7 linked regions of the Homo sapiens genome follow. The protein of the gene in region 6 interacts with the protein of the main gene of each other region in a biochemical or structural test. Each region holds a gene or a part of one and is shown on either strand. Other genes may lie near its edges. The genes, in order: IRF1, SOX10, NOTCH2, NFKB1, CCNE1, GSK3B and CREB1.

Region 1 (4,383 bases), on a different chromosome or scaffold from region 6:
GGGCCAGCTTTACACCACAAGAAAAACCCAGACACTGGCCTGCCAGGCCCTGAGAGGTCAATGACCCAAGGAGGGAGGCCCCATCCCCACTTGGCAGTGGGGTCACACTTGGCTGTTGAGGGGCCCACAGAAGTCCAGCTTCTCTGCACCATATCCACCATGATGCCAGGTCCTGCTTGCCTAGAGGAATAAGAGGGGCCCAGGGGCCCTGCTACGGTGCACAGGGAATGGCCTGGATGGAGGGCAACCGGACTGGGGTCAGCAGGCTGTCCAGCCAGGTGGCATCCATGTTCTTCAGATCTGTGAAGACACGCTGTAGACTCAGCCCAATATCCCCTAGAAGATGTGAAGAAGGTTGTATGAGGGTAGGGGACGGTGGCATCAGGTGTGCTTCCCCCTACCCCTGAAGGCCATAGACATGGCCTCTGCTCTTCCCAGCACAGCAGTAAACATCCACTCAGCTTCAGGCAAACCTTAAGGCATGGCAGCCGTAGCTAATTCACAATGTGTCAGTACCCCAGATGCTTTACCGCCCTGCTCCCTGGCCCTGCCCCCAAGCTTTCTCCATCCCTACGTGGTTCTCCCTCATCTAAGAAGCCATAAGGATCCAGGGCCTTCTTACCCCCTGGGCTGTCAATTTCTGGCTCCTCCTTACAGCTAAAGTCTCCATAGACAGAGGTGGGCTGGACTCCAGGTTCATTGAGTAGGTACCCCTTCCCATCCACGTTTGTTGGCTGCCACTCCGACTGCTCCAAGAGCTGGGGACAGAAGAGCAAGAGGCTATCAACTCCCTTCCAGTGCAGACTCACCCTGTGGCCCTGCCCTCAATGAGCCAGCTCCTCTCAGCCAGTATCACACCCTTGGCCATTTTCACAATCTCAGATAGGATGCAGAAGTGCACTGCAGTCAGGACAAGGGCCCGGGAGGGAGGAGGCAGAAATGCATGTTGGCACTGGTCCTCAATTCATTTTCCCACCCCTCTCACACCCACTCTCTGGTATAGCATCTCCACGACTTCCCTCTCAACTGTGTAAGGACATAGTAAGAGGGAATGTGGCTTAAAACAAAGGTTAGCATAATAAATCAAGAAAAGATGACTAGAAAAGCTAGAGATAAGGAACGACATCCATGTCTCAATTTTTTGGGCTAATGGAACAGCTGGCGTACAACTACTGCAAAAACTTTTTTTTGAAATGGAGTTTTGCTCTTGTTGCCCAGGCTGGAGTGCAATGACACAATCTCAGCTCACTGCAACCTCCGCCTCTCAGGTTCAAGCGATTCTCCTGCCTCAGCCTTCAGAGTAGCTGGGATTACAGGCATGCGCCACCAGGCCCAGCTAATTTTTATATTTTTGGTAGAGATGGGTTTCACCATGTTAGTCAGGCTGGTCTCAAACTCCTGACCTCAGGTGATCCACCCACCTTCGCCTTCCAAAGTGCTGGGATTACAGGCATGAGCCACTGCCCCCGGCTGCAAAAACTATATTCACTTTCAAAACTGAAGCAGAAAAAAAAACCTGGAGGATAATTTGCTAACTTTTTCTATAAAGCCATCATCATATTAACGGATCCTAAAGGCTGATTATTGAAGCCTGATGTGCATTTCCCGAACTAGCAGGGCTGGGGCATGTTGGGGCAGAGGATGCAGGCCAGGGACCCATCGCTGATAGTGCCTGACTCACAGAGCTGTCTGATGCCCCAAGGCTTGCTTCAGGACGGCCTGTCAGAGGCCAGGCCTCCCACCTGCCTTCCCTTCCCATGGTGGCTTTCCCACCAGTCAAGCCACGTGAATGTGGCACTTGTGGGACAATGCAAGCAGCCAGGTGACAACAGCAGCTACCCATCCTCTGATTTGGAAGCTTCACTGGTTCTCTCTCCTCACTGAGAAACGGTCACTTCAAGAGTGCCCAGGTAGGAAGGGGCTTTACCTTCATGATGTCCTCAGGTAATTTCCCTTCCTCATCCTCATCTGTTGTAGCTGTGGATGGGGAAAGCAGAGAGGTTGGCTGGCAGTCAGCCACACTCACCCTGCAGTTCCAGTTCCAGCCCACCAGATCCCCCTGCCCTTTCTCTGTCTCTCTGTCTCTCTGACACACACACACACACACACACCCTCCCGGTGGACCTATCTGCCATAGAGATTCCAGAACAGGACCCTGGCCTGGTGACTCAGCCTCTCAAACCCTGAAGCCACGCCGCTTCCCACCCCTACCCTACTTCCTTCCTCACCCTCAGATGCTGGGCTACAGAGGAGGAAGGAGAACCAGCACCCCAAAATGCAGCCCCTGGCCCCCTTCCCTCCTCTCACCAGCCCCCACTGTACTGCAGCCCACTCTGAACTGCCTTCCTAGTGTCCCCGTCGCTTGCCTCCCCCTATGGTGGCTAAGACTGGGCAATGCCCAACTCAATCAATTCAGTGCCAGGTGGAGTTCTGATCATCTTTTCTCTCTCAGGAAGCCCTTCACAGGACCCAGACAGTCAAGCAGGCAGGCCAGGCCCCAGGAGCACCAACCTTCAGAGGTGGAGGGCATGGGTGACACCTGGAAGTTGTACAGATCACTGGTGCTGTCCGGCACAACTTCCACTGGGATGTGCCAGTCGGGGAGAGTGCTGCTGACAGCACATGGCGACAGTGCTGGGGAACAGCAGAAGCCACAGGTCAAGGTTGTGTGCTTTCTTAGTTTGCAAGACATCGAGCGCCCTCCGACCAACCCTGCAGCCTGCACTAATGGGCCACCATGTGCCAGCACCATGCCTCCAAGAGAAAGAGTCATCCCACTGACCTGTGGGGTCTCCTGCCAGACCTGGACCAGCTCACCTGGAGTCAGGGCCTGCTCCACCTCCAAGTCCTGCATGTAGCCTGGAACTGTGTAGCTGCTGTGGTCATCAGGCAGAGTGGAGCTGCTGAGTCCATCAGAGAAGGTATCAGGGCTGGAATCCCCACATGACTGTCGAGGGAGAAAGCAGCTTAGGCCCAGGCCCACCTTAGCATTTCTTCCACTGCTCACCCTGGCCCACAGGTGACCAAAGGCCTGGCTGCTTAGGACCACACTCACCTTCCTCTTGGCCTTGCTCTTAGCATCTCGGCTGGACTTCGACTTTCTTTCTGTGGGGCAGACGGGCTGTCAGCCTTGGTGCAGGCTCTCCAGCCCCAGCTGACCTCCTTCTACCCTCCCTCCCTGAGGGCTTCCCAAGGACCCAGAGTCCTTGGATACCTTTTCTCTGGTTCTTGGTGAGAGGTGGAAGCATCCGGTACACTCGCACAGCTGAGCTGCCCTTGTTCCTGCTCTGGTCTTTCACCTCCTCGATATCTGGCAGGGAGTTCATGGCACAGCGAAAGTTGGCCTTCCACGTCTTGGGATCTGGCTCCTTTTCCCCTGCTTTGTATCGGCCTAGAGGGCAGGAGAAAAAAGAGGATCGTCAGGGCCATGGGTAGGGATCCTCAGCTGCCCCTGGCCTGAAGGAGGAAGGCAAGGTACCCCTGACCTCTTATGCTACCAGAGAGCCACAGTGGTCAAACCAGCAGGTACTCCCGGTGACACTCTGCAGGTCCTAGGCCCTGGGCCTTCTCAAATGCCCAGGCTTGGCTTAAACACATCTAGCGGGCCTCAGTGAAGGGCCCAGCCAGAAGCACTAGAGTCCCCATATCCCCAAAGTGTACTATCTGTGTCTCAGACTATGCCCAGTCTTCCTCCTTGGGCTATCAGCAGCCAGAGGGTAGAGTGGGCACAGACTGGGCAGCAGAGAACAGTTACTAAATGGGTGGGCTGACTGTTCTGAGATGGGCCTAGAGCTCCATCTCTCAAGGATAAAGGAGGCCACCAACCACATGAGGCTTGGACCAAGGGCCTTGGTCAACACGAAGAAAAAGGCAGACCTGGGTCTCTTTCAGTGCCCTGGCTTACAGCTGCTTTTCACAGATGCTTTTGCCAGGGAGAACTTTCATCTAGCCACAAACCCCCTGAAGCCACACACTTTCTAAGATCTTGGCTTTTCCCTTTGAGAATTTGCTGAGATGATCGACTCTCTTCTCCAGAAACACAAGTCTGCCACCAGCCCCTCTTCCCAGTAATTCTGCATGTTGTCTCAGGGAGCTCAGGGACCCCAGTGAAGAGCCTCTGTGTTAACGTGAGTGCCTCCTCTTGTCTCTACCCTGGGCTTCCTAGGCCTGAGTCCCAGGCACACACCTGTGTGAATGGCCCAGCTCCGGAACAAACAGGCATCCTTGTTGATGTCCCAGCCATGCTTGGCAGCATGCTTCCATGGGATCTGGAAGATCATCTCCTCCTGAACAATACACACATACACATAAGGCTGTGTCAGGTCAGAGACCACAGACTTTGGGGCTGAGTCTGAGACCCAGGCCTGCCCAGCCAGACAGGTC
Region 2 (3,795 bases), on a different chromosome or scaffold from region 6:
GGAAGATGCATTGCTCCAGATACAAAGCAGAAGCAGGGGCTGCAAACCACAGGCAGGTGGAGGGGATGATGGTTAAAAATGCAAGCCTTGGAGTCAGAGCTGGGTTCAGATTCTGGCACCAGCACTTCTTAGCATCAGCCTCGCAAACTTCAGTTTCCCCATCTGGAAAATTGAGATAACGATCGGACCTACCCCTTCACTGGCCTGAATGACATAAAACCCTTGGTGGAGCACTTAGTAAATGGCAGCTGGATATAAGCTGTTATGAGCTGGGTATGAGGAAGAACTTCCAACCATCGGAGTTGTTCATCAGTGGAGCAAGATGGCAAAGAGTCTTTGGAGTTGTGTGCTTGTGAGGTGGAGTGGTCCTGGCCTCTGGGTGCAGTTTGGACTTCTGCTGAGGAAAGAGCTCTTAGGGAGTAGGCGCTTAAGGAGTAGACTGTCTGACATCCTTGGTCTGGACTTGGACATGGGCACCTGCTGTGAAGGCTTGGCTAGATCCTGGCGTGGGCTGCTGTGTGTGTGCTGGGGGAGGTGGCAAGTGGGGGGATGCAGCAACACAGGGCCTATCCACACATCCTGAAGGACAGGCCTCTGACTGCAGGCAGCACGGTGTCACCCTCAGCCCACCTCCTCCTCTTCAGATACCTGTCTCTTGAATTCTTTGCAAACTCCCGTCTGCTGAGTGCTGGGTGAGCAGAGGGGCTGCTTGCAAGGCAGTGAGTTCTAGCTGAGCCAGTTAAGAGTGAGTGGCCCCCCTGCAGTGTGGGGCATAGCCGCCGGGCTGGGGAGAAGTTCCCATCTGAGGCTTCAGTCCCTGAGCTCAGATGGACCCCACTGGGATGCCAGCTGTCCTAACACTCTCCATTGTTCCCACTTTCTTAGCAGGGAGAGAGACAGAAAGAGAGAGAGGAGAGTGGGAGGGGGGAGAGAGAGAGAAAGGAGAGGGGGAGGGGGGAGAGAGAGAGAGAAAGAGAGGAGAGAAGGGAGGGGGGAGAGAGAGAGGAGGGGGGAGGGGAAGGGGGTGGGGAAAGAGGGAGGGAGGTGGGAGAGAGAGACCTTTGATGATCTATCCTTTGCATTCTACTCCTAGCTACTTCCAGAAAGCATTTGAGGAAGCACCAGTACAGGGATAAGAGATGAAGAGACAGGCCAGGTCAGGCTCACCAAGCAGGTAACCGGAACCTTTAATTTTATTATGTGGAATGCTTAATGCAGAGTTAATAGGGGCTAGAGTGGCTAGGAGAGGGGACTACTGAGATAAATAACAGGAGACAGTAATGAGTTACATGTGGATTTGGGGGGCTGCAGAACAGGAAAATAGGGGCAGATATAGCTACATACTTTATTCAAATACCACTGGGAGGCAAGGGGTAAGAGGCAAGGGCAGAATGTACAGGTCAGGATTCTAGTGTCTTCAGCCTGCCGACAGCAACCTGGGTGCTGGGCCCTGTGTCTCCTGGAGCCAAGGGTTAGGGCCTGAGCAGCTGTCACTCTCTGGGAAGCCCAGGGAGTGGGGCTGACTGAGCAGGGGCCATAGAGCCTAGTAAGGGAAGAGGGAGCTGGCAAGGAGCCCAGGGAGGGAGGCTCTGTGAATTGTCTCTGATTCCTTTCCTGGAGCCCCTGCCTCGTCACCTCCTGGGATGCGTCTCAAGGTCATGGAGGTTGTAGTGGAGGAGGACTGGGGGCTGTTTCTCAGACAAAGAATGAGGTTATTGGCACAGAATTGGATCAGGGGGCCTCTGTGCCAACTCCTTCCTGCCTTCAGAAAGGGAGGGGGCATTGAAGGGATGAGAACTCCACTAAGTCCCTCGAACCCCCCACTCCCCAATGAGGCTCCTCAAAGCTACTCTCAGCCCCTGAGTGGGAGACACGGCCAGCTCCGGGCACAGTCTCTGGGTGGCCTAGCCCTTAGGCACTGTGGCATAGGTGGCATGGGCATGTCAGACCCTCACTATCTGTGAGAGAGAAAACAGGAGTCATAGGAGTGGTAAGGCCTCCGATGCCACCAACCCTGGTGCTTCCCCTCCCCGAGGAGGGTGAGCAGGCCCTTCTCAGGTCCTGGGATAGAGGGTCATTCCTGGGGGAAGGTGCAGCCCCTCATCTTTCAGTGTGGGTGCAACAGTCAACCTCCTTCTCCTCTGTCCAGCCTGTTCTCCTGGGGCTTTGCTGCTGGAGCCTGGATGGGGCGGGTGGGTCATCAGGGCAGTGAGCCAGACAGAAAGCCCCCCGACCTGTCAGCCTCTTCAGCCTCCTCAGCCTCCTCCACTGCCACCACCAGGCCTGAGGTGGGCAAGGAACAGGGCACACAGGCTGGGGGCAGGGGCTGGGCGGGGGGTGGTGGCGACAGGGCCCCCTTTAGGGCCGGGACAGTGTCGTATATACTGGCTGCTCCCAGTGTGTGGGGCTGTGGGACTGGGGCCCTGAGGGGCTGGGGTCAGAGATGGCCGTGTAGAGGGGCCGCTGCGAGGGCCCCATATAGGAGAAGGCCGAGTAGAGGCCAGAGGCCTGGCCCGAGTGGCCATAATAGGGTCCTGAGGGCTGATGGTCAGAGTAGTCAAACTGGGGGCGGGAGATGGAGGGGAAGGCTGAGCCATAGTGGGGCAGGCTGAGGGAGGTGTAGGCGATCTGTGAGGTGGATGGCTGGTCGGTGTAGTGTGGGGGCCCCTGGGGCCCCGCGGTCTCTGTCTTCACCTGGGCTTTGGCATCCACACCAGGTGGTGAGACCGTGGGCAGAGCCACGCCTGGTGGCTTGGAGATCCAGGCGGAGTGTCCACTGGCCACGGCCAGGGCACTGCCCAGCCCATAGCCGGCTGCTGAGTAGCTGCTCACATGGCCTGGGTGCCCATTGGGCGGCAGGTACTGGTCCAACTCAGCCACATCAAAGGTCTCCATGTTGGACATTACCTCGTGGCTGATCTCACCAATGTCCACGTTGCCGAAGTCGATGTGAGGCTTCCCGCCCTCCCCCATGGAGCGCCCGTCCCGCTTCGGGTCTGCCTTGCCCGACTGCAGCTCTGTCTTCGGGGTGGTTGGAGGGGTGGGTGGGCCATGGCTCTGGCCTGGGTAGAAGGGAGACAGAGAGAGAGAGCGCAAGGGGGAAGCAGGTTAGAGGCAGGTGGGCGCACGTGAACTTCCATGGTTCACCTTCAGGCAGCGGGTGCCTCTGGGAAAACCTTGTAAGTTTCACATTTTGGCAGCATGAGTCGGGTTTTTTTTTGTTTTTTTTTTTTGAGATGGAGTTTCGCTCTTGTTGCCCAGACTGGAGTGCAGTGGCGCCATCTCGGCTCACTGCAACCTCTGCCTCCTGGGTTCAAATGATTCTCCTGCCTCAGCCTCCTGAGTAGCTGGAATTACAAGCGCCCACCACAATGCCCAGCTAATTTGTGTATTTTTAGTAGAGACGGGGTTTCACCATGTTGGCCAGGGTTGTCTTGAACTCCTGACCTCAGGTGATCCACCTGCCTCGGCCTCCCAAAGTGCTGGGATTACCATCATGAGCCACTGCGCCCCACAGCATTTGTTTAAATACTGGTGTCTTAGATTGATCTCTAGTTGTTTATGAAATTCTCAAATCTTAGGGATGGGTCCTGGGGAGGCCTGCCTCATTCTGAAAAAACCTTTCCTGTGGAAAGTTCTTCCTCTCATCAGCTTCTCTGCTGTCCAGGTGGTCTGGCCCAGCCTTTGCGCTCTGCCAGCCCCGCTTCCACACCCATGCCTACTGTCTTCCTTGCTGAGCCTCGCTCGCCCAGGCTCCTGAGTGCTCTGTTTCACCTTTGCTGGTTGCCTGGGCCT
Region 3 (4,551 bases), on a different chromosome or scaffold from region 6:
CCCCCGCCACCTTTCCCCTTTACACCAGTGCCACTCACTGACGACAGACACAAGAGGGTATGACAGGGTCCCCTGTATGGCGTGAGAGGCCAGGAGAGCTGCTGCTGCATCCGTGTTCTTGAAGCAGTGGTCTGAGTCTTGAACACACTGGCGGTTGTCAATTTCCAGAAAGACTTTAGAGCTGTGGGATGCCAAGGGAGAAGCGGAGGAGGAGAGATGGGGGTAAAACAGAAGAGTGCAGGTCAGGCAGAACATGTCATAAAGGGTGACAGGAGCCTCCCTTCCTCCCCTTCAGCATCAGGTCCCCACCTCTGGGATGCTGCCTTAAGACATATCTCAGGAATTAGAATACTGTCCCTTGAGATCTTAAACACTAATTCCCACATAGAGGATGTCCCACCTTCCTTAGTCTGGCTGACCAAAGCCTTCTGGCTGAGGCAATGCATGACAAAGTGAGAAGCTGTGCTTTCCTCCCGAAGGTTTCAGTGGTCTTCTTCCACTCTTTCATACCTACTCAGTGGTACTTGGTGCTACTCTAAACATACATCCCTGTGTGTTTTTAGTCCTTATTTTCCTTTGTCTCTGCATTGGTATCTCAGCTAGCTGGAGGGTTGAAAGTTTGACAATATACCAACAAAGAGTGAGGTGTGAATGACAGAGCAACTGAAGATCATTACCTGTGTCAAAGAGACATATATTCTAAAGAAGGGCCTTAACAATAAGGCAATGATTAATGTAAAAAGGAATGTCACTAATAAAGGGATTTGAGGCAACTCTGGCAAAAGGTTATGGATTCTGGCATCTGAGGAGGCCTTCCAGACATTCTGCCTCCTGTGTACCCCTGCCCACTTTTCAGCCAAGACGAAGGCATATCTTTACATTTAAACGTAAGTACTGGGGTAACGGGTTTATCTTAAGTGGTGGGCCATTCTATTTTTCTGATCTTTGCATTTCTATAGGTTGAGTTATGACTTGTGCTATATGTCAAAGTGCTAGGCTTCATAAAATTAGCCTTGAAGTTCAGAAACCAAACACCTACCCAGCCACCTCCTGTTCTTGTTCACCAGGAAGGGATCTGCGTGTCATCCTCTGTTTCTTCATAGCAGCTGACTTCTCACCATAATAGGGGTACACCATGAGTTCCCCCTGGGAGTCCCGCTTAATGCGCAGGTTGGTGTGGAGCAGGGTACCCAGTGCCCGCAAGAAGCTGCGAGCATCCTGGAGCAGTTGTTCAGGTGGCATCAATACCACAATAACCAGGGTACCTTCTGCCAGGTTCTCAGGTTGGTCAGCAGCACAGTCCAGCCCATCCCAACCACACTCCTCACTGTTGCACCCCTGGTCACAGTGGTTGTCTTTGAAGTGGTCTGCACAGTATTTGTCATACCTAGGTAAGGGGAAGCAGAGAACAGGCAAAAGAGCTCAGATTAGACTGGAGCTCTATTTGCTTTTTCATTTGGAACTACTGTGGATTTTCCTACCCATTTTCTGTGGCCCACACCCAGGACCCAAATGCCCCACAAAACCTTCTTTGCATCTCCTATCCCTGATGCCTATGCCACTCATCCTTGTTGAGTACTTCCTAAATGAAGAACATTGTACTCACTATGCTGCAGGAGCTTAGGGGCTCCCAGGCAGTTTACAAGCCTGTTAAGTCAGGTTTTCAAACAAAGCTGCATATCTGAAACAAAAGTCAACCTGGTTCATGCTTCCTCTACTTTAGAGAAATCCATTGCCCCCAGTAAGGTAACAACGGGCTTTAGGAAGTGAAAGATGCCTCTAGAAACTTGATACAAGGCCCTGAACCATTGAGAGTTGCCATACAGAGAACAATATTAACATGACCCATTTCTTTCCCTTTCAAGAGTGAATCCCAACTACAGAAGGTAAAGGCAGATGGGTATGTCCTTATAGCACACCAGATATTACTTGTACAGGCTCTTTCAATATTTGGAAAAGGAATTAGAACCCCCAAACCTAAATGATGTACAAACTATTCCATCTATACTCTCCTCTCCTCATCCCCTACCCCTTGATATTTATACTATTTGGTACAACTTTTCATGCTAGCTCAATCAGAAGATTAGGAGTCAAAGAAACAACTTGCTTTGGCAAGTTCTTTAACCCTTGGGCCTAAGTTCTCTCACCTATGAAAGAATGTTAGTAATACCTATGCCTCGTGAGTTGCTGAGAATTAATTGGGATTAAATTATATGGAATGGCTAGTTAATAGGAAAGTTCCTAAGTAAACCATAGAGCATCCTATACAATTAAGACCGGGAGGGTTCACAGACTTAATCTAATTCATGCTTCCTGATAAATCTAGATGGGGAAAAACAGTCTTAGGGAAAGGAATGGGGTGAAGAGAGAGATACAGACCTTTCCATCCATCCTGCAGGCAGGTTATGTGAGAGGCTGCTTGAAGTGGGAAACACCACTTCCAAAAGTTATATCCCCCAGGAGGTCACGAAGGCAGCAGGTGAGAAGGCAAAGATAGGCAGAGAGAGAGGGTCATTATGCAATGAGCATTCCTGGCCCATTGTCAGCAAGGGAGAGCACAGGGCAGTGTGCGATGGGACAAGGCTGGCACCATCTGAAAAGCAGAGGCAGCTTAGGCTGAAGCACTGGAGTGGTTAGGAGCAAGAACGAGAAACTGAAGTGTGTTAGTGACAGTCCCCTTCAGTTCTGGAAAACGTGAAGCCCTTACTTGCATGTCTTGCTGTTCCCCTGGCATTCAAAGTTGTCAAACAGGCACTCGACCGTGTTGCACAGCTCATCACACTGGTTGTTGATATAATCCCAGCAGGGAAGTGGGGAGGAGCAGTTGGCCCAGGGGTTCTCCATGGTGAGAGAACAGTCACCCCCATCCCACTGGCAGGCATGGCTGTTGCAGGCCTCATCACAGACGCCATCCCGAGCTTTGTCGGCACAATACTGGCTCAGACAGGTGGCAGGAGGGGTGCTGGGGGGTGCCGTGTAGAGTTCACAGCGGCTACCCGAGAATGGTGGGGCACACTGGCAGGAGTAATAAGGAGGCTGGCGCTGAGGGTGGCAGCTGCCCCCGTGCTGGCAGGGGCTACTGGCACAGCCTGACTCGCAGTCCCGGGGACTGGGGCAGAAGCAGCGGGGTCCAGAGGCGGTGTGCACACACTGCTCCCCCTTCCTACATTTCACTTGTCCACAGCTGCTCTGGCACCTTGCCCCGGAAAATCCCTGTGGAAATCAGTGAGGAAATAAAAATGGCATTGGTAGGAAAACAGTCATATTGGAAGTTTGAGGTTTCTAGAAAACCTCCACATCTCACTCCCTTCTGTACTTCCCGTTCAGCCCAAGCCAAGGTTACTAGACAGGTTTCCTTTTGGTATCTCCCGAGGCATAGGGATCTCTTGTTTTGGGAAGGTTTCAACCTCTGGCAGTGATAAAAGAATGGGTATAGCAAATAGCTAAAATTGAGCTTCCCTCTACTTTAAGAGACAACTTGCTTCCAAATGGTTCCTGCTAAAGAATGTAAGAGCAGCATTTCCACCAACTCTGGCCCAATCTGGGCAGTGAGATTACCCTCCAGCCTGGGGCCAAGAAGCCCCACACATCAGCCCTATTTTCAAGGGGGCACTCCACCACTTTTTGTGGTTTTCCCTTAGTTTTTCTTAAGACTGACAGTCATGGATTGGGAAGCTCACTGTTTCTGGGAGTGTCTAAACAGCTTTTATTTGTTTTTGTTTTGTTTTGTCACTTGTAAACAGCTTTAAATGGAAAAACCCAAGCACTTTCCTCTGAAAGAGCTAAAATTGAGAAATCTTCCCATTTCGAAGATTGGTAAAACCAGGTTTAATCTCAGTTCTGTTCACAGATTGTATGGAAGAGACAATGCCCCTTCTTAGATGAGCAACAGGGCACTTACCGGGGGACAACGGCAAATGAAACCATCAGGCATGTTACTGGCCACAGCACAAGTCCCTCCATTCAGGCAGGGCATCTGGGGACACACATCGACGAAGGTTTCACAGTGCCGGCCTCAGAAAATAAAAAATAAAAAAGGTTTTAAAAGGCAGAAGTAGTCACTGCAAGTTACTCAACAAACTTTGCTGGGATGGGAACTAGCCATAGGTGAAGCAAGTGTGAGAGAGTTCAGTTCTAGGCCTGTGGTAATCTGAGCATAGAAAGAAAACACTCACTGCATCTCAACATGATTGGCCTGTCACCAGCTCAGGCCAGTCCCTTACTCTGTCTTGCCTACACAGTAAGTACCAACTCACACAACAGGGTGGGTGAGAAAAGTGACTTAAATCCCATCAAAAAAAGAGAAATCACACTTCAGCTTTTTGAAGTCATTTTAGCTTTCATAAGTTGCAAAAAAACAGTTGAAAAACTATTCACTGCATTTTGTTAATGTTATCTACTTCATAGGAGAGGCTACACCAGGCCAATACATTTAAATGGTGATTTGCGGTATAGAGAATTTTCATCTGTGATACCTCATTTCAATCACTTTTTGGCCTTTCTGTAACCTAACTCGTATTCCTTAAAACACAGCTTAATTTTCCTAGAGTT
Region 4 (4,551 bases), on a different chromosome or scaffold from region 6:
AAATTTTTTTCCTATTTCCTAGATTGTATATTCAGTTTTCAGTTTTGATTTTACGTAAATCAATTGCTGATTTAAGTACTTTCCTGACTATCCAACTGAGCAAAAAATTAAGTGTAATTTAATTTTAATTCTTAACATTGCTTTCAACTTCTAATTTCCTCTACATAAATAGCCACCCACACATGCTTCTTCCATCATTCCACATCATCATCATTTTAATTTTATAAATCATGAAGGTTCTTGTATTATATGCAGATGCTATAAATTGTAAGGTATTCTCCTCTGGCCTCATTACCAAGTCCATACCCCATTTAAAAGAAAAAGACACTGAAGGTTATAGATCAAGTCTTAACAGTCAAACACCAATACATGTTTAAGCCTTACAAAATAAGCCTATACTTAAGAACTGGTAGACAAAGAGGTTCTTCAAATATCAATAAAACATGATTTGGGAATTTGTGTTAAAACATCCAAAAATAGTTATTTTCTCATTCCTAAAATTCTTGTCATGGAAGACATATTTTCTAAGACAATTAAGTAATCTATTTTCACTATTTAAATGAACTGCAGGCTTGGGCTTAGAACCAATAAATAGGTTGATTAGGGAGTCTGTCATCACTTTTATGTTTTCTTTTTTACATACTTGTTATATGGTAGAATTGACGTCTGGGATAAAGAGGGATAGGTGTGCCCTAACACTGAAATATGGTATAGTATTTTCAGTCCAAATGACATGATAAATAATAAAAATAATTTTTTGAAATAACTGCTTTTAACAAATAAAAGTCATTAAAAACAAATTGCTTTTTAAAATGGGACATTATAGAGGTATGCTCAACTTTATGCAGGTCTTATACTTTCTTTAGTTCAAGTTAGTGAAAAGTAAATCCTAGAAATATTAGTGAGCCTCATTTATCAAAAAGGTTCACCTTGGCCAAGCTAGGTGGCTCACGCCTGTAATCCCGGCACTTTGGGAGGCTGAGGCGGGTGGATCACTTGAGGTCAGGAGTTTGAGACCAGCCTGGCCAACAGAGCAAAATCCCATCTCTACTGAAAAAAAATAAAAAATAAAAAATAAATTACAAAAAAAAGGTTCATCTCAAAGAAAAATCTAATAGCTTTATTTTCCAATATGAAATGCATGAATTGTCCATACATTTCTACTAGTAGCGTAAGGATTATAACAAAGTTAGAGCCTTGTTTGTTTTGTTTATGCTTCTCTTCATGCCCAGAAGCTGCAGACTGAACTCGTAAGGGAACACACAAAAATTTATCTTTTTCTGGAAGCCATCTCATGGGGAAGTCACAGGCAGAGTGCCTGGATTATTTTATTATTTTAACAAACACTGCCGCTATTAATCTTCGGAGTACTTTTCAACAATGACGGCTTTACAGTGCAATTGTTATAGATGTTAACATTTAATTTCTTTCTCATTTTGCTGGCAACAACAAAAAATATTATATATACATATTTGTAACTAATATATATTAAATATAATTATATTAGTTACAAATATGTATTTATACATATATCATTATATTTAATATACATATTAGTTACAAATATGTATATATATAACCTTTTTTGTTGTTGCCATATCTGTATATGTAACTAATATATATCAGTATATTTAATATACACATTAGTTACATATATATGTAACTAACTTTTAACTTAATTTTTAAACTTGAATGTTTGTTGTGAGTGATGTGAGGGGAGATCAGGGTCAGAACCAGAACTAAGTGGCAGCAAAGCAGAATGAACTGAAGTGAGCAGCGCTCAATAAAATGGTTGTTTTCCCACAGGACTGCATTAGGGTTCCCAGGGGGCACAATGACACTAGGACAGGGAGTATTGGCATTTTGCTCTTTTCTAGTCTAAATGGTATATTTCATTTAAAAAACTGTGTCCACAAAAAAATAAATGGTTCAATTCAGAAATTCAAGGCCAACTTTTAAAAAATGCTACAACTGAAAAATAATGAACAAACTGTGCTAGGATGAGGCCCCAGCTTCTATAGTGTTGGAAAAATCATTAAAGTATGAAAGTGGAAAGTACAGTAAACCCTGCTAACTGCCTGCTTGTTCCTGAGGTTTGCCATCTAGTAACTTTTAACAGTCACAGATTTATGGGTGATAGGTGTTTAATTCTAGAGGTAACATAACAAAATAACATATTTTGTTTTAACTTTTTGGTTGATTAATTTAGATAAGTGTTAACAATTCTTAGATTACCAAGCAGTGCTTGTAGCATTGTTTCTTTTTTGGAGGTATTAGTATTTGATATTACAGTTTCAATGGAGTGTACAGAAATTCTAACTTCACCAAAAAATTACATTTTTCAATTTTACAAGCACCTTTTATCATTCCAATTACTTTATAATCTTGCTCTGGTGCCTCTAAAACTTTGAAACTAAAAGGCATTTTTTTTCTAGTTCATAAATGCCTCTTTCAGAATGAAATGTTCCCCTTTTGGAAGGCGCCAGATACTTTTTAATAAATTATTTGTTCTAGTAAACTTCAAGTGGTCTTTAGATAAGATTTCCATAATATCTAAGACACAAGGACTATTTTGTGCTCCTTTCTTTCCAGAAGGCAAAGCAAAATAATGTAATTTTTGTTCCTTATAGAAGATGGCTGTCCATTTAAAAAAAAATTTTGCAACAACTTCATATCATTCATTCATTTAACAGTTAATGATTGCTTACTATGTACCAACAAGTACAATGCTAAGCATCAGATATTTCTTTCGTCAGTATTGATTAGATATTATTTATTTTTAGTTAAACTAGAGTATTTGATTCTCTCAAACAGCTTTTTCTTTATTTCATTTTTTATAATTTTGGCTATTTTAAAGAATAAATTCTTTTCTAAAGCTTAAGCAGTCAAAATTTGTCACAGTTTAAACTAATAGGATCCATAGATGAACTCAAGTCTGTTGATATCTACTGAAGGCATGGGTCAAAATAAAAGCTATTTTAAGGTTTCTGGATTAATGGTGAAAGATGAATGAAAAATAATAAGGCAATTTGTAATGGATAATTAAACCAAATATATCATTATTCTAATTTCAAAAACAGGCAATAAATTAAAGCAGATGAAATTTGTATTACTGATAATTAATTCTGTTTGTTACTACAGAAAATATGACACAATAAAAATTGTTTTCTTTTTAAAATGTAAAATGCACTATTTTTATTATTAGTACTCTAAATTAAACAAATATTTTCATCCATAATCTATCTTCTGAGATTTCTATAATCTTTAACAAATCACATCTTATGTGACTCTTATTCTGTACAGAACTGTCAGGCTTTAAATTATTTGAGGTGTAGCAATGCAATTTGCACAACTTATTTTCTAAACTGTTGGCTGATCTTCAAGGCCAGGTCAACAACCTCCGGAAATGTAAAAGACAGTATATTAATTTGCACCCAGGAACAACCCCTAATACAGCAGAGACCAAAGGTATGAAGCAATTTCATCATCATTAAAAGAATGTTACTACTTTTTTCTCTTTTTTTCTTCTAAAAGTGAGGCACTGGATACTAATTAATGAAATACTACAAAGATAAAAGGCTTGGTTATGTTACCAGAACTATTAACTGTCCAAATTATGTGGTTTCAAATATTAATCTTTTTTGATTAAAAAAATTCACAGTCAAGGAGCCAAACTGACTTGCAGGACTATGCCAAAACGTTCAAACCTTTCTCCCTGAGGCTGAGTACCTTCAGTTCTTCCAAACTGTCTGTCTCCAAAGTAGTGACAAAATTCAAAGAGAGATCATATGCTCTTGATGGTTTATTGCTGACCTCTAAGAACACTACAAGTGAGTTCAGTATTTATGGGAGGTGCAAGAGTGCAAATGAGAACTAATTCCCAAAAAGCAGAGTAAATTGCTCCAGTATGGTCTACTGTTTACCAAGACGTAGTCATCAATTAATGCTGATTAGACACAAATGTAGATGTAGGAGCAGAACATCTTAACATATCCTCTAGCACTAACTTCTATTTTTCCTTCTCCTTCTCTTCTAATATAACAATCCCACTACTGTAGACAATTCACCTTGTAAACAGAAAACCAACAGACCAACCGAATAAAACAAACTTCCTACTAAAAGTAAGAAAATTAATGAGAAATTTTGCATAGACATCCATTCCTGTTAATGTGATTTCTGATCAATCTGTGGACCAGAAGAGCATAATCTGAGAATTTACTCTATTGGTTATACAACAGTACTGTGCATTTCCAGATACACTTCCTACTGCAGTCAATTCTATACTCAGAATAGCACATCTACTAAGACCCGAAGATGCAAAAGATGACATTTTGAGTACTTCATCAAAAATCCATACAGCAACTCAGATACAATTATTTTACTGTTTGAAAATATCGACTACTTTTCTTACTTCTCCCAAGTTCAAACCAATTGAAGGTTATGAAGTAACCACTTCCCCCCAGAAGCCAGAACTTTCACCTCTTCTGAACAGAGAAATACCTCTCATAAATTAGGTAAAAATAAGGTCTTGCTGATGGAATGATAGTCCAA
Region 5 (4,551 bases), on a different chromosome or scaffold from region 6:
AGGCAGTCAACATCCAGGACACAGAGATCCAACAGCTACGGAGAAGAAAAGAACGCTGAGATGGATGCCACCACACGCCTATTCTAGAGTTCCTCACTCCAGCTGCAGGGAAGGTGGCCCCACGGACGTGATGGAGCCACTTACCTCTGCAATCTGTATAAAGATTTGCTGGGGATACTGCGGCAGTAGCACTTCATGTAAGTCATTTAGATATGCAACCTGCATGTATACATTCAGCCAGGACACAATAGTCAGGGGACTTAAACGCCACTTAAGGGCCTAAAGGAAAACAGAGAGAAAAGAGACCGATGATTGAGAAAAGAAGTTCAAAATGCAGCCATGTTCCATGCCACAATGTGTCCAGCTGGAGAACACCTCCCAGAGGCACTCACACTTCAGGTGGAAAAGATCTGCCGTACGCATTTAAAAAATGGCCGGAAAATTCACTGGAACCCACCTTCATAATCATTAATTCCATGGTGAGAATTTCATCTCCTGAACAAGCTCCATCTGTCACATACGCAAACTGGTGCAACTTTGGAGGATAGATTTCCTGAAAGGAAATAAAAGATGGCACTAGCACCAAAGCCAATCTCTAACAGTCTCAATTTATAATGCATCCAAAATGACTTCTCAGTACCCTGGCATGGAAAGAGAGAGGGCGCACTGATGGAATTAACACAGAAGCCACACCAATGGTTGTAAAAAAAAAAAAAAAAAAAAAAAAGAACACAACTCCCACCCACCATTAAATAAATGGATGGAACTTTGACTCATTGTGGGTACTCTTGAAATATCCCCTTTTCAGTACCTTTAACACATTTGAAAGTTGGGCCCATATACCCTTTGATAATCATACACAAATTTTTAATCTTTTCTTTTTTCTTTTAGACAGAATTTCCCTCTGTTGCCCAGGCTGGAGTGCAGTGGTAGGATCTCGACTCACTGCAACCTCGGCCACCTGGGCTCCAGCAATTCTCTTGCCTCAGCCTCCCGAATAGCTGGGATTACAGGCACGTGCCACCACGCCTGGCTAATTTTTTGTATTTTTAGTACAAATGGTATTTCACCATGTCTCAAACTACTGGCCTCAAGTGACCCAGCTGCCTTGGCCTCCCAAAGTGCTGGGATTATAGGCTTGAGCCACCAACCCGGGCCCAAAATTATTATCTTAGTTCAAAGTTCATTTTTTTTTTTGGCTCAATGTAACTACATGAACCTAGGTCTTCCATACCCTCACTACTTTTCTCTTCCTGGTCACTTTCCAGCCTTTTTTTCTTTTTGGCATGTGTCTTAACTTTACAGGGTAGCAAATCAGAAAAATTTAGGATGAGTGCTATAGGCTAAGCGCCAACCTCTTCCCCCAATCTCAGTGGAGCTCGAGAAATAACACACATTATAGAACAAATATTTGAAAATTATTTACCTCAAGTTTGGCTGCAATAAATAAAGATGAAATCCCAATAAGCTGTAAAAGAGTTTTTACAACATTTTCTTGTGTCGCCATATACCGGTCAAAGAAATCTTGTGCCAAGTAAAAGGTCTCCCTGTGAAGTTTATAGACTTCACACACCTGAAAACATATTTAGTAAGTTTTAGCACAAGTAAGTTTTACTTGAGGGAGGGGAAAAAAAAAAAACTTGTAATGACTTTGGTGAAGGAAAATATAAAATGCAAAGTTCCTGAACTCAACAATTGATAGTTTTTTGTTTTTTTGTTTTTTTTTTGAGGTGCCTTATTCTGTCACCCAGTCTGGAAAGTAGTGTTGTGATCTTGGTTCACTGCAACCTCCAACTTCCAGGCTCAAGCGATTCTCTTGCTTCAGCCTCCCGAGTAGCTGGAATTACCAGCACCCGCCACCATGCCCAGCTAATTTTTGTATTTTTAGTAGAAATGGTATTTCACCACGTTGGCCAGGCTGGTTTTGAACTCCCGGCCTCAAGTGATCCACCTGCTTCGGCCTCCCAAAGTGCTGGGATTATAGGGATGAGCCACTGTGCCCAGCCTAACAACTGATAGGTTTTAAATGAGGGGCCCTTCTGGCCTGTCCCACCCTCACCTGCCTAGGATGTGAATCATCCCCTTGCCCGCACATCCCCGTGGAGTAGGCCACCTGCCTGTTAGTCACTCACTAGCACACAGGTCATCAGATGGACTGTCACAGCACAGCAGTGCTGGTGTTCAAGCAAGCAGCCCTTATTTGACTGAATAATGGCCCCACAGGGCAAGAGTAGTGATGCTGGCTATTTGGAAATGCCAAAGAGAAGCCGTGAAGTGCTTTCTTTAAGTGAAAACATGAAAGTAGAGGATTAAAAACATGGCATATCTAGAGCTCAGTACTATCTGTGGCTTCAGGCATCTCCTGCGGGTCTTGGGATGTACCCCCGAGGATGAGGGGTACTTCTGTAGTTACACACTCAACTTCTACATGTTTTCATGAAGCAGGTCTGCCTGAGATGTCCTTCCACTTCAGAAGAAAAGCCCACTTCTCACCCATTCAAGTCTTACAAGGTTGTCTAGGAAGCTTCCCTTAATCAAGAAACTATAAGCTACCGCAGTTCATCCCAGTAAGATATACAACCAATAAAATCTCATCTTTTATGTTTAACCATTATCTATCAAATGTTGTTATACTTGTTCTTTTGATTAACTGTTAAAGAGAAATAAAATAGTGTGGACCAAGAAAAGATTTGAGTTGGGTGCTGTAGCTCACACCTGCAATCCCAGCACTTTGGGAGGCCAAGGCATGGGGATCCCTTGATCCCAGGAGTTGGAGACCAGCCGGGGCAACATAGCAAGACCCCAACTCAACAAAAAATAAAAAATCGGCAGGGAGTAGTGGCTCATGCCTGTAGTCCCAAGGACTGCGGAGGCTGAGGTGGGAGGACTGCTTGAGCCCAGGAATTGGAGCCTGCAGTGAGCCGTGACTGCACCACTACACTCCAGCTTGGGTGACAGAGCAACTCTGTCTCAAAACACAGAAGCCACTCCAATGGTCCAAATATCTTTAAAAATATGCTTAAAAAAAAAATTGAGACAGAGTCTCATGGTCACCTAGGCTGGAGTGCAGTGGCGCTATCACAGCTCACTGCAAGCTCCAACTCCCAGGCTCAAGCAATCCTCCCACTTCAGCCTCCCCAGTAGTTGTGACTACAAGCCTGAGCCACTATACCCTGACAATTTTTTATTTTTTGTTGAAATGGGGTCTCAAGGGCCAGGCGCAGTGGCTCACGCCTGTAATCCCAGCACTTTGGGAGGCCAAGGCGGGCGGATCACCTGAGGTCGGGACTTCAAGACCAGCCTGACCAACATGGAGGAAACCCCGTCTCTACTAAAAATACAAAATTAGCCGGGCGTGGTGGCGTATGCCTGTAATCCCAGCTACTCGGGAGCCTGAGGCAAGAAAATCGCTTGAACCCGGGAGGCAGAGGTTGTGGTGAGCCAAGATCACACCATTGCATGCCAGCCTGGGCAACAAGAGCGAAACTCCGTCTCAAAAAAAAAAAAAAAAGACATGGGGTCTCGCTATGTTGCCCAGGCTAGTCTCTAACTCCTGGGCTCAAGGGATCCTTCTGCCTTGGCCTTCCAAAGTGCTGGGATTACAGACATGAGCCACTGTGCCCAGCCAGGATTTGAACAATATATTTTATTAGAATAAATGGGAATGGTGGAAAAGGGAATGGATTCCAAGAAGTTAAAAAGGAGCAATGTCAGACCTGTTTAAGATAAGCTTGTTCATATATGTTTACAATTTATGACAGTAGCTATAAAACAGGTGATATATGCATCCCAGTGAATACATTTAAAAGCAATTTAGCTGGGCATGGTGGCTCACACCTGTAATCCCAGCATTCTGGGAGGCCGAGGTGGGTGGATCACAAGGTCAGGAGTTCAAGACCAGCCTGGCCAACATGGTGAAACCCCGTTTCTTCTAAAAATACAAAAATTAGGCAGGGTGCGGTGGCTCACGCCTGTAATCTCAGCACTTTGGGAGGCCAAGGCGGGCAAACCACGAGGTCAGGAGATCGAGACCATCCTGGCTAACACGGTGAAACCCCATTTCTACTAAAAATACAAAAAATTAGCCAGACGTGGTGGCGGGCGCCTGTAGTCCCAGCTACTCGGGAGGCTGAGGCAGGAGAATGGCATGAACCCGGGAGGAGGAGCTTGCAGTAAGCTGAGATCGCACCACTGCACTCTAGCCTGGGTGACAGAGCAAGACTCCGTCTCAAAAAAAAAAAAAAAAAATACTGGGCGTGATGGCGTGCGCCTGTAATCCCAGCTACTCAGGAGGCTGAGGCCAGGAAAGTCACTTGAACCCGTGAGGCAGAGGTTGCAGTGAGCTGAGATTGTGCCACTGCACTCCAGCCTGGGTGACAAAGCAAGACTCCATCTCAAAAAAAAAAAAAAAAAAAAAGCAATTTAATGAACATAATGAACAAAGCTCAAATGTTAACAGTTACAATTTACTGGAAAATACAATCTTAACAATTATTTAAACTTGGATGGAAAAAATTAGATGCCAATTTTAAAACATCTGAAGGATAAAAA
Region 6 (4,551 bases):
CTTCTCTTTTGAAAGATGATGTCAATAGTCAGGCATCTGTTTTTGAATGTCATTTTGAATTATACTTTTTCTGAAGGATATTAACAGGAAGAATGGTGATGCTACTAACAGGGTTATTGATGTCTTGATAGAGCAGTGATTACAGATTTTCTCAGTCCACATGAGTTTTCCTAGACCACTGTATCAATCACCTTGGAGGCTGACATCTCAGAAGAATATTCTAAAGATCACACTTTGGAAATACGTTTACATTCAGCAGCATGCTCTACTAGAAAGAACTATAAACTTAAAAATCAGGAGACCTGGTTTCTGGCCCAAAGTTACTGATTATTCATGATTTGGGGTGCCTCTCTGAGCTTTTCATTTGTGTTTTAAATAAAAGCCCATCTTAGCAGGCTTGTAATGTGAGATGTTAGTAAAATTAAAAGTTATAAAGCACATTGTAAAATTTTCTTCTTTTGAGTTATTAAAGAATGAAGCGAATAGTACATATGGTTAATGACAGTTTAGCTAATTCATATAGAAATAGCTAATTAATACAGAAGTGACACAAAACTTGTGAAAGGAAGATTGAGTGCCAGTAATCCATAGCATTTCACCTGTTCTTTTCTGAGAATCTGTTACTTTATTGACTGCTTAAGGATTCTGATTTGTTTAGAATAGGAAGTATTTAATTAATTTCTACTATCTATTCCAGTTGTATATGTATCAGCTGTTCCGAAGTTTAGCCTATATCCATTCCTTTGGAATCTGCCATCGGGATATTAAACCGCAGAACCTCTTGTTGGATCCTGATACTGCTGTATTAAAACTCTGTGACTTTGGAAGGTAAGCTACTGTCCCTCTCCCTGCCCCTTCCCTTTTCCCCTCCTCCCCCTACTATCTTCTTTTAAATATATTCCTTTTGCAATATCAGCCTAAACACAGTAATTCTTATTCAAGAAGTATAAACTAGTGCAGCTGTGAGAGTAGTTTTGTTAGTTTCTGTCAAAATTATAAATGTATATACTCCTTCATTTAACAGTTTAACTTTTAGGAATTATTTCCTTAGGAATACATATTTACAATACAGTGTATATATAGGGATTTTTATTATAGCATTGTTTATAAGCATCCATTAGTAGGAAAATGGCTAAATAAATTACGGTACATGCAGAGTAATACATGCAACCATGAAAAAGAATGAGGCAACTCTCTGTGAACTGAAAGGGAATGATGTCTAGGAAACATTAAATGAAGAAAGCAAGATCAAGAGTATATGTATTGTATGCCACCTTTTATGTTTTAAAAACATACAGAATGTGACTATATATATATATATGTACACACACACATATATACACAAGTACATGTGTGGCTTATTTCTGAAATGGTACGTAATCCATAATATTTGATTGCCTGAGAAAGGATCTTTGGGAATATAATGTAGTTGGGAAACTCACTTTTTCATTGATTGTATTTTAGTATTGTTTGAATTTACATTAGGTATATATACTCCTTTTTCAGTAAGAACTAAATTTTTTCAAAATATTGATTATTATACATTCCTGTGTATCTTTTTAACTTCACAATTAACCTCAATTCAGGGATGAGATAAAAAACAATGCAGTGTTTTCTTCATTTTCCTCTATAATTTAACCTTTTATTCCACCCTTTTTCCTGCAAATTTCATCAAACTTTCTGCTTTTAAAAGCTCATTTCTTGGTAATATACTGTGAATTTGTAATACAACTTTATTCTTTCCATTTTCAGTTTTCAGTACTTTGTGCCTCTCTGATCTAACCTTTTAACATGTAGTCAAGCCTACATTCCCATGTAACTCAGGCAGTTACCCCGCTACTTCCTCACTGGTGTAATCACCTAATCTCTCTCCTCATGGTCCCTAAGACATCTTTACATAATTTGGATTCTCTCCAATTTAATTTTTTCACCCTTGTTACAGATTCTTTTCACCATAGCTCTATAGATAACATATTGCCCCACACTTGTTAATACCTGTGTTCCTATCCCTTTGTAATACTTTTACATCAATTCACAGTTTAAATTTGGGGTTTAACATAGGATATGTTTTCCACAGGCTTCTCTTGAGACAGATCCTTTAAAAAATAAGTAAATCTGTTCTGTCATGAGTTAATTTTTCTTAGTCTCACAATGTGTCCTCTTTCAGACTGTCCTCATTTTACTGTTTTCTAATTTCAGATGACCTATCACTTTGCAGGCCATGACTCTGTTCCCTGAACTATTTTTAAAAAGGGTGAAAGATAGTAAAACTCTTACCTGGTGTTTGAAACAAAGCACTACTACTTGTCTATAGGAAAAACTGCCCAAATCAGATATGTTTTATTGTTAATGGGGTGTCTTCACCATTGAGAGTGACTGACTTGGTAGGGACAGACTGAGACACCAAGGTTAGAAGAGCTTCTGTTCTCATATAGTGTCAAAACACTTGGTACAGCCCATTCTCTTGGGACATAAAATAGCTTTATTCTGATAAATTTGGAAGAGGGATTTCGCTTGTTTGATAGCTCATTTTTATAAACCCTCTGATTTTTTTGTTTTTAACAAAATTGGTTTGGTCAGATGGAGTTTGGGAAACACTTTGGACTGTACATTATCAGATTGGTAATTTGAACAAAATACTATTACTTTCTTCTTATTTTTTTACTAGATGAAAAGGGGCCAAAAAGTAGCTAAAGAACTAGTTGGGCTATTTAGGAACAAAAAGCTAGATGTGATCACAATATTGGGAAGTAGTTAAAACCAGTCTCCTCTGTAAGAGAGGCTGCTCCGTTTTTGTAGCTCCATCAGGTAGTGAAAAAACTTCAGGCTACAAAGCTTGGGTATTAACGTTTTGTCTCGTAATGAATTTTCTGAACATAATTAGCATCTATCTTGTTAATTAAAAAGCATCCTTTAGAAGATATAACAGTCTCCTATCAATTATGCTGAAAACTAAATGTCATAATTTTCATGCAGCCTAAAAACAGGGATTAGTATTTATTAATTTATGAAATGGTTATTGTATGTCAGTACTTGGGGAGAGGGTTAAAAAACAAACTTCAAAACTAGTGATGAAGGAAAAAGAAGTTAAGGTTAGAGTCATCATTGACTAGAAATAAATGGAAGAAAAGAAATCCCAGTCATTGAAATCCTTGTGACTACTTTCATCTGTCTTTACCCTGGTTTTCCAGTACCTTTACTTTTTTTTTTTGGCACTTACTGTTTTACTGTTTTGATTTTGTTGCATTTTGTCCCTTTATTTATCTTTATTATTAATGTATGTCAGAATGGCTGGCTTCTACAGCAGTTTATTTTATTCTGTCTTTGGATTATCTTGGGCGACATCTCAAAAGAAATTAATTGTAATTTATTATACTTCATATTTAAAATACATGCAATGAAGTATTTTAGTAGGAAAATTGGAATAAGAAAACATGCAATTATACTTACTATAGCAGAGTTAGAATTTATAGGCAGTGAATCATTTCTGCCCTGAAGTTGAAGGGCCTGTTTATAATTTATTGGGTAATAAATGTTTATGTGGTTAATAAATTGACCAAGATATGGAAAAATAGATTGAGTCTATAAGCCTTGAAATATTCGCCGTGAGTCAGAAGTCAAAATGCAAGACAGTGGCCAGTTTCTCACCCTTTTTAAAGAAATACATTGGGTGAGGAGTATTCATTCTTAGAATCCATTGTCATGCTTTTTGGTGGGGGAGGTACCTCTTTTCTGCCCTTGCTTCTTTGTATTTTAGAGGTGGAATTTGGGGAACAGAGGATCAGAAGAAATTCAACACTTATCCTTTTTTGCTTTTGGTGCCTTCTTAGGTGACAAACGCTTTCTTTAAAAATTGCTATTCTTTTTTGCAGAGCAAGGTGATAAAATTGTAAATTTCTTTTATTAGAGATAGTTACAGTTTACATTTTCTTTTTCATATATGATTCAAATGATGTGAATCTTATAAAATCATTTGATACTGTGAAAGGATAGCAGTCTAAGTTCTTTAAGGTTTAGATTTAAAGAATTTCTGCTTTTTATTTTTATTTTTTTTCTGTTAGTGCAAAGCAGCTGGTCCGAGGAGAACCCAATGTTTCGTATATCTGTTCTCGGTACTATAGGGCACCAGAGTTGATCTTTGGAGCCACTGATTATACCTCTAGTATAGGTAAGTACAAATCTGAATATAATGCTCATAATTATTAATTGCTTCTTGATTTTGGTAATTTAGTACTACTAATCTGTACTTTTATTTCCATGGAAAGATGGATATATCCCATAATGTTTTTTTTCTTAAAGCTTGAGATGCAAACATGTATAGGCATACCTCATTTTATTATACTTTCCAGGCACTGCTTTTTTTTTTTTAACCTCTCAAAGGTTTGTGTCAACCCTGAGTCAAGCAAGTCTGCCCACACTAGTTTTATAAGAGCATGTGCTCACTTCATGTCTTTGTGTCATCATGTCTTTGTGTCACATTTTGGTAATTATTGCAACATTTCAAACATTCTCATTGTATCTGCTATGGTGATCTATGATCAGTGGTCTTTG
Region 7 (4,551 bases), on a different chromosome or scaffold from region 6:
AAAATTAGCCAGGCGTGGTGGTGGGCACCTGTAATCCCAGCTACTCGGGAGGTTGAGGCAGGAGAATTGCTTGAACCCAGGAGGTGGAGGCTGCAGTGAGCTGAGATTGCACCATTGCACTCCTGCCTGGGTGACAGAGCAAGACTTCATCTCGGGAGAAAAAAAAAAAGTCACTTGGCTTGTTTCCAACTCTTTTTCTAATATCCCAGAAAAATCTCTGCCATTTCTCAGAGTTTAGATATAATTTACTAACATTGTGACAGCTAAGAATATTTTAGGAACAAAAAAGCTGATCTGAGCTGTGAAATTGCACACACACACACAAACCCATTTCAACAGAGCACTACAGTTACAAAGTGCTTTCAAAGGATTCTCTTACTTGACTCTTACAACAATACTTTGGGTGTGTGCTGGAATCCCATTTTACAAAACTGAGGTACAGAAGGTTAATACCTTCTCCCAAAATGGAGGGATAGGGCTAGGACTTGGAAGCCCTGCTTCTTTCACTTTATCAGTGTTTGAAGTATCCTGGGATGAACAGTGAGATACTTTCACTAATTTCAAACTTTTTAAACCTTTACATAACCTTATTTTCATTTTCTTTTGTTTGTCTCGGTCACTTCTATATGAAAGTTCTAAACCAATATTTAGTAACTTATTTTTATTGTTTTTGACGGCAAAATCATTTACAGCAATAAAGTTACTTTCTGAGAATTGCTTTACCAACATTTCACAGATTTTGAATGTAGTATTTTTTTGAAGACTATATTTTAAGATTTTTGTCCGTAACATGGTATTCTTAGAATTAACATATTTTTGAAGAATCTTTAGGTGTTAAAATGTTATTATTTTGAGTAAAGATATTATTCATTAAAACATGAACTGGCCACCATACATTTACTTTATATCAAGTAAATTTAATATAGATAAAATTTAACACACAGTTAATATACATATATGAAACTCTTGATCTTCTTGAACAATACTATACATGAAAAGAAACCATTTTTAAATAACCTGGCTAACTGGTTGGAGTGCAGACATAGGGAAGTTGTGCATTAAATCTCCTGTGGGGAAACTGCATGAAAGAAAACTACTCCACGATCAAAGATTGACCCATAATCATACAGCTATCTTATAAGTGCAGCTTATTAAATAAAGAAAATTTAGCAAGATCCATTAATTCTGCTGGAAAAAAAAAATTCAATGCAAAGATCCTATTACCAGTAGATGTAAAGATACACATCCAGCAGAATGTGAAGACACACTTAACACATAACAATCTAAGTAAATGCAGTATTTGTACCTGTTCTTCATTAGACGGACCTCTCTCTTTCGTGCTGCTTCTTCAGCAGGCTGTGTAGGAAGTGCTGGGGAGGATGCCATAACAACTCCAGGGGCAATAGTGCTAGTGGGTGCTGTGCGAATCTGGTATGTTTGTACGTCTCCAGAGGCAGCTGAAAAAAACAGTGAGCATGGTGTAAGACAGAAACATTGCAACTTGATTCAATTATGTGTATCAATCATCAATCTAAGCATGTATTTTGGACTAAAAGGGAAACAAAAAAGAAAAGATGATTCTGGCTAAAGCGTTGAAAGAATCAGCACTCTTCGCGCCACTACTAAGAAATAATTCCCAATGTAATGTATTTATTACAGTAACCTATGTCCGCTGGATCTTACATTTTATTTTTCATTTGAATGCAGTTCTATTCTGTTGTTAACATGCTTACCAACCTTAAGTCTAAAAGGTAAGTGGGGCACAGCTTGGATGATCTTCCTAGATAGAGTATAGTCCTCAGTGTCTTCCTTTGATATTGGTAAATTCATATTAAAAAATTTCAAGTAGACTCTTGCCACGACATAAAAACGACCATGATTTTTCATAAAATAGCAAAATGAAAAAGAAGATAAAGCATTATGGTCAACTATTATAAATTTTGAATTAAAACAAAACTAAAAGTATGAAAAAGTGTATCACTTGATGCCAATTATATTATTTGAAAAACATATTGTTTTAATGTAAATGATAATGGCTAAATAAACTGAAGTTTTATTTTTCTAACTGATTCACCATTTGTAAAAACAAACACAATCACTATTTGTCAAACTGCTTCTAAAAACAGCGTAATAATATGCTCTCCTAATAAGGAACCTAATGTTACTTAAAAAAATTTGAAGGTCTTTATAAAATTATTCATATTAATTATTAATATCAATTAAAATGTATGGTTTGAGTGGAAAAGATTTATATACTAAACATGTTACCATCTTCAAACTGACGTTCAGAATTCAAATTCACTGACATCCTGCTTTACAATTTTTGAGTACCTGCATGTAAAGTGAAAAGGTGTTTTACTCTCATCAATAAGCAAAATAGTATCTTTTTCAAATACTCGTTTAATAACAGAATATATTCTGTAAACATTAGGGCTCTTTAAATAAGTTATGACTCTCTCCAGTTGGTGTTTCAGGATTATTCAATTATCCATGGTGAAAGGATACAACTGTCATTACCTAACACAGGCAAAATGCATTATTATTTATAAAAATATTTTCAGAAACAAATTTATTATTATTTCCTCAATCAGCAAATTTCTAACCTGGCATTAACTATATTCTTGAAATATTCAAACAAATCCAAAGAAAAATGGTTAACTGCTATCCATAAAGATTCCTGAAATAAACAGAAAAAAAAAACTAAAAAAAAAAAAAAAAAAGCCAAAAAAAGCAACTTCTATAATTTGTCGAGAATTTAACAACTACTTTTTCTCTAAAGAGCAGCAGATTTGCATATTGGTATAAGATCCTGTGGAATATAATGTTTTCATTTGAAACAAAAACTGAGTCAAGTGCAGAGGCATCCCAACACTTTGGGAGCCTGAGAAAGGAGGATTGCTTGAGGCCCGGAGTTCAAGACTAGCCTGGGCAACACAGTGAGACCATGTCTCTAGAAAAAAATAATAATAATAATAATAAAAACTGATGATCTCAGAAGATTTAAATTTCTTTTGGGGGGGGGGGGGGAAGCAGAGAAACAGAATCCTGAACTTCTGAAGATTGTTTCCAGAGATTCAGTGCAACTCTTATTTTACAGATGAAAAAACAAAAACAACAACAACAAAAAACAAAACACTTTCCTGAGGCTCAGAGCAGCTGACTTTTACTCAAGGCCTCATAGCAGATCCATGCAGTTAGATACAGAATCCATCTTTTCTAACTCCTGATTTCCTGGTCTTTCCTTCTAACCTATCCTGTTTCTTCTACCCCAAAAGATGTTAAAGGTAGATGCAATATTTTAAAAACTGAAAATAGTTGTTTTTATGCCATGACATTTTGGTCCAATTGGAATAATGGAAGAGTTCATGAAAAATACTATCAATATTGAAGAAATGTTAACTACATTTGAATGGTGGTTTGCAATATGATACTTACTTTTTCTGTGAGTTTATAAAATTTTAGTATTTTGAAGAATTTACCACACCTGTGAATTCTGAATTCCCTTACCTTGAACAACAACTTGGTTGCTGGGCACTAAGATCTGCTGTCCATCAGTGGTCTGTGCATACTGTAGAATGGTAGTACCCGGCTGAGTGGCTGCTGCATTGGTCATGGTTAATGTTTGCAGGCCCTGTACCCCATCGGTACCATTGTTAGCCAGCTGTATTGCTCCTCCCTGGGTAATGGCAACTAAAAGCCAATGGATTTTATTGTTACAAGTTTAATACCATATAAGACTTTTAAAACATTACATCCAATGTAGAATAATTTGTAAAATAATCTAGGAGAAGTTACAGCAAATAACATCACCAAGAAGGGTCTAATATATTCAAGTAACTTGCTCCTCAGGAAACCCATATTCAACTTCTACAATAGAAATGCACTCTATGAACTGCATTCTAATTTATAATAATAATGCCTGTTAACAATTTTTTTAAGTGGAAAAATGTTAAATTCCTTCTGAAGTTATTTGGTTCTGAAGAGGTTCCACTCTGTGATCCTTTCTTTTATTTTAGCATTAACTGCATAATGTATTAATACTTGTCCCACTAGTAAATAAATTTCTGGAGAGTAGGAATTTTCTTATATACTTTCATACACTTAGCACAGTGGCAGCCATGAAATAGGCACCCAATAAATGGTTGTTTTAACATATAACTAATAAAGCAGTTCATCAGTGCATTGTATTCCCTAACTCTTGTAGAAATTCTTTAATGGTATCTAATCCACTCAATGAAACAACTGAAATATCCTATGGAACTTAATTATCAACAGTCTCTCATGGAATTTTAAAATCAGAGCTCAAGATCATCATTTAGAAAAAAAACTTTAACTGTCATTTCTAAATTATTTAATACATATCCAAGCATTCTCATATAGAACCCTTTGTTGTTTATGCCCTAATTAGCCACACCTGTCATTCATTTGTTAAACAATAAATCAGTCAACTTTTGCTCATACTAGTAGATATTTCACTTTATGAAAAACTAAATCACCTTTATGCTACAGTACATAGAAAAATTTAATTTAAAAATTAGATGATTTATTTGG

What was found.
Region 1: the proteins of GSK3B (region 6) and IRF1 form a complex in vitro, tested with the Homo sapiens proteins (one study listed by BioGRID).
Region 2: the proteins of GSK3B (region 6) and SOX10 form a complex in vitro, tested with the Homo sapiens proteins (one study listed by BioGRID).
Region 3: the proteins of GSK3B (region 6) and NOTCH2 form a complex in vitro, tested with the Homo sapiens proteins (one study listed by BioGRID).
Region 4: of the proteins of GSK3B (region 6) and NFKB1, one has a biochemical effect on the other in vitro, tested with the Homo sapiens proteins (one study listed by BioGRID).
Region 5: of the proteins of GSK3B (region 6) and CCNE1, one has a biochemical effect on the other in vitro, tested with the Homo sapiens proteins (one study listed by BioGRID).
Region 7: of the proteins of GSK3B (region 6) and CREB1, one has a biochemical effect on the other in vitro, tested with the Homo sapiens proteins (one study listed by BioGRID).

Annotation. Positions count from the first base shown.
Region 1 is NC_000005.10:132,483,740-132,488,122, forward strand, and holds part of IRF1 (interferon regulatory factor 1), read right to left. Parts: intron 4,287-4,383; coding exon 4,187-4,286; intron 3,392-4,186; coding exon 3,215-3,391; intron 3,106-3,214; coding exon 3,056-3,105; intron 2,948-3,055; coding exon 2,818-2,947; intron 2,635-2,817; coding exon 2,512-2,634; intron 1,978-2,511; coding exon 1,928-1,977; intron 759-1,927; coding exon 623-758; intron 337-622; coding exon 212-336; 3' UTR 1-211. UniProt on the Homo sapiens protein: Transcriptional regulator which displays a remarkable functional diversity in the regulation of cellular responses.
Region 2 is NC_000022.11:37,971,137-37,974,931, forward strand, and holds the end of SOX10 (transcription factor SOX-10), read right to left. Parts: intron 3,063-3,795; coding exon 2,359-3,062; 3' UTR 1,176-2,358; downstream 1-1,175. UniProt on the Homo sapiens protein: Transcription factor that plays a central role in developing and mature glia.
Region 3 is NC_000001.11:119,922,598-119,927,148, forward strand, and holds part of NOTCH2 (neurogenic locus notch homolog protein 2 isoform 1 preproprotein), read right to left. Parts: intron 4,015-4,551; coding exon 3,902-4,014; intron 3,214-3,901; coding exon 2,708-3,213; intron 1,388-2,707; coding exon 1,040-1,387; intron 182-1,039; coding exon 39-181; intron 1-38. UniProt on the Homo sapiens protein: Functions as a receptor for membrane-bound ligands Jagged-1 (JAG1), Jagged-2 (JAG2) and Delta-1 (DLL1) to regulate cell-fate determination.
Region 4 is NC_000004.12:102,503,983-102,508,533, reverse strand, and holds part of NFKB1 (nuclear factor NF-kappa-B p105 subunit), read right to left. Parts: intron 1-4,551.
Region 5 is NC_000019.10:29,817,724-29,822,274, reverse strand, and holds part of CCNE1 (G1/S-specific cyclin-E1), read right to left. Parts: intron 1,574-4,551; coding exon 1,427-1,573; intron 554-1,426; coding exon 458-553; intron 280-457; coding exon 145-279; intron 36-144; coding exon 1-35. UniProt on the Homo sapiens protein: Essential for the control of the cell cycle at the G1/S (start) transition.
Region 6 is NC_000003.12:119,912,321-119,916,871, reverse strand, and holds part of GSK3B (glycogen synthase kinase-3 beta), read left to right. Parts: intron 1-697; coding exon 698-828; intron 829-4,061; coding exon 4,062-4,168; intron 4,169-4,551. UniProt on the Homo sapiens protein: Constitutively active protein kinase that acts as a negative regulator in the hormonal control of glucose homeostasis, Wnt signaling and regulation of transcription factors and microtubules, by phosphorylating and inactivating glycogen synthase (GYS1 or GYS2), EIF2B, CTNNB1/beta-catenin, APC, AXIN1, DPYSL2/CRMP2, JUN, NFATC1/NFATC, MAPT/TAU and MACF1.
Region 7 is NC_000002.12:207,574,411-207,578,961, reverse strand, and holds part of CREB1 (cyclic AMP-responsive element-binding protein 1), read right to left. Parts: intron 3,691-4,551; coding exon 3,508-3,690; intron 2,332-3,507; coding exon of another isoform or gene 2,315-2,331; exon of another isoform or gene 2,309-2,314; coding exon of another isoform or gene 2,269-2,308; exon of another isoform or gene 2,037-2,268; intron 1,853-2,036; exon of another isoform or gene 1,738-1,852; intron 1,458-1,737; coding exon 1,307-1,457; intron 1-1,306.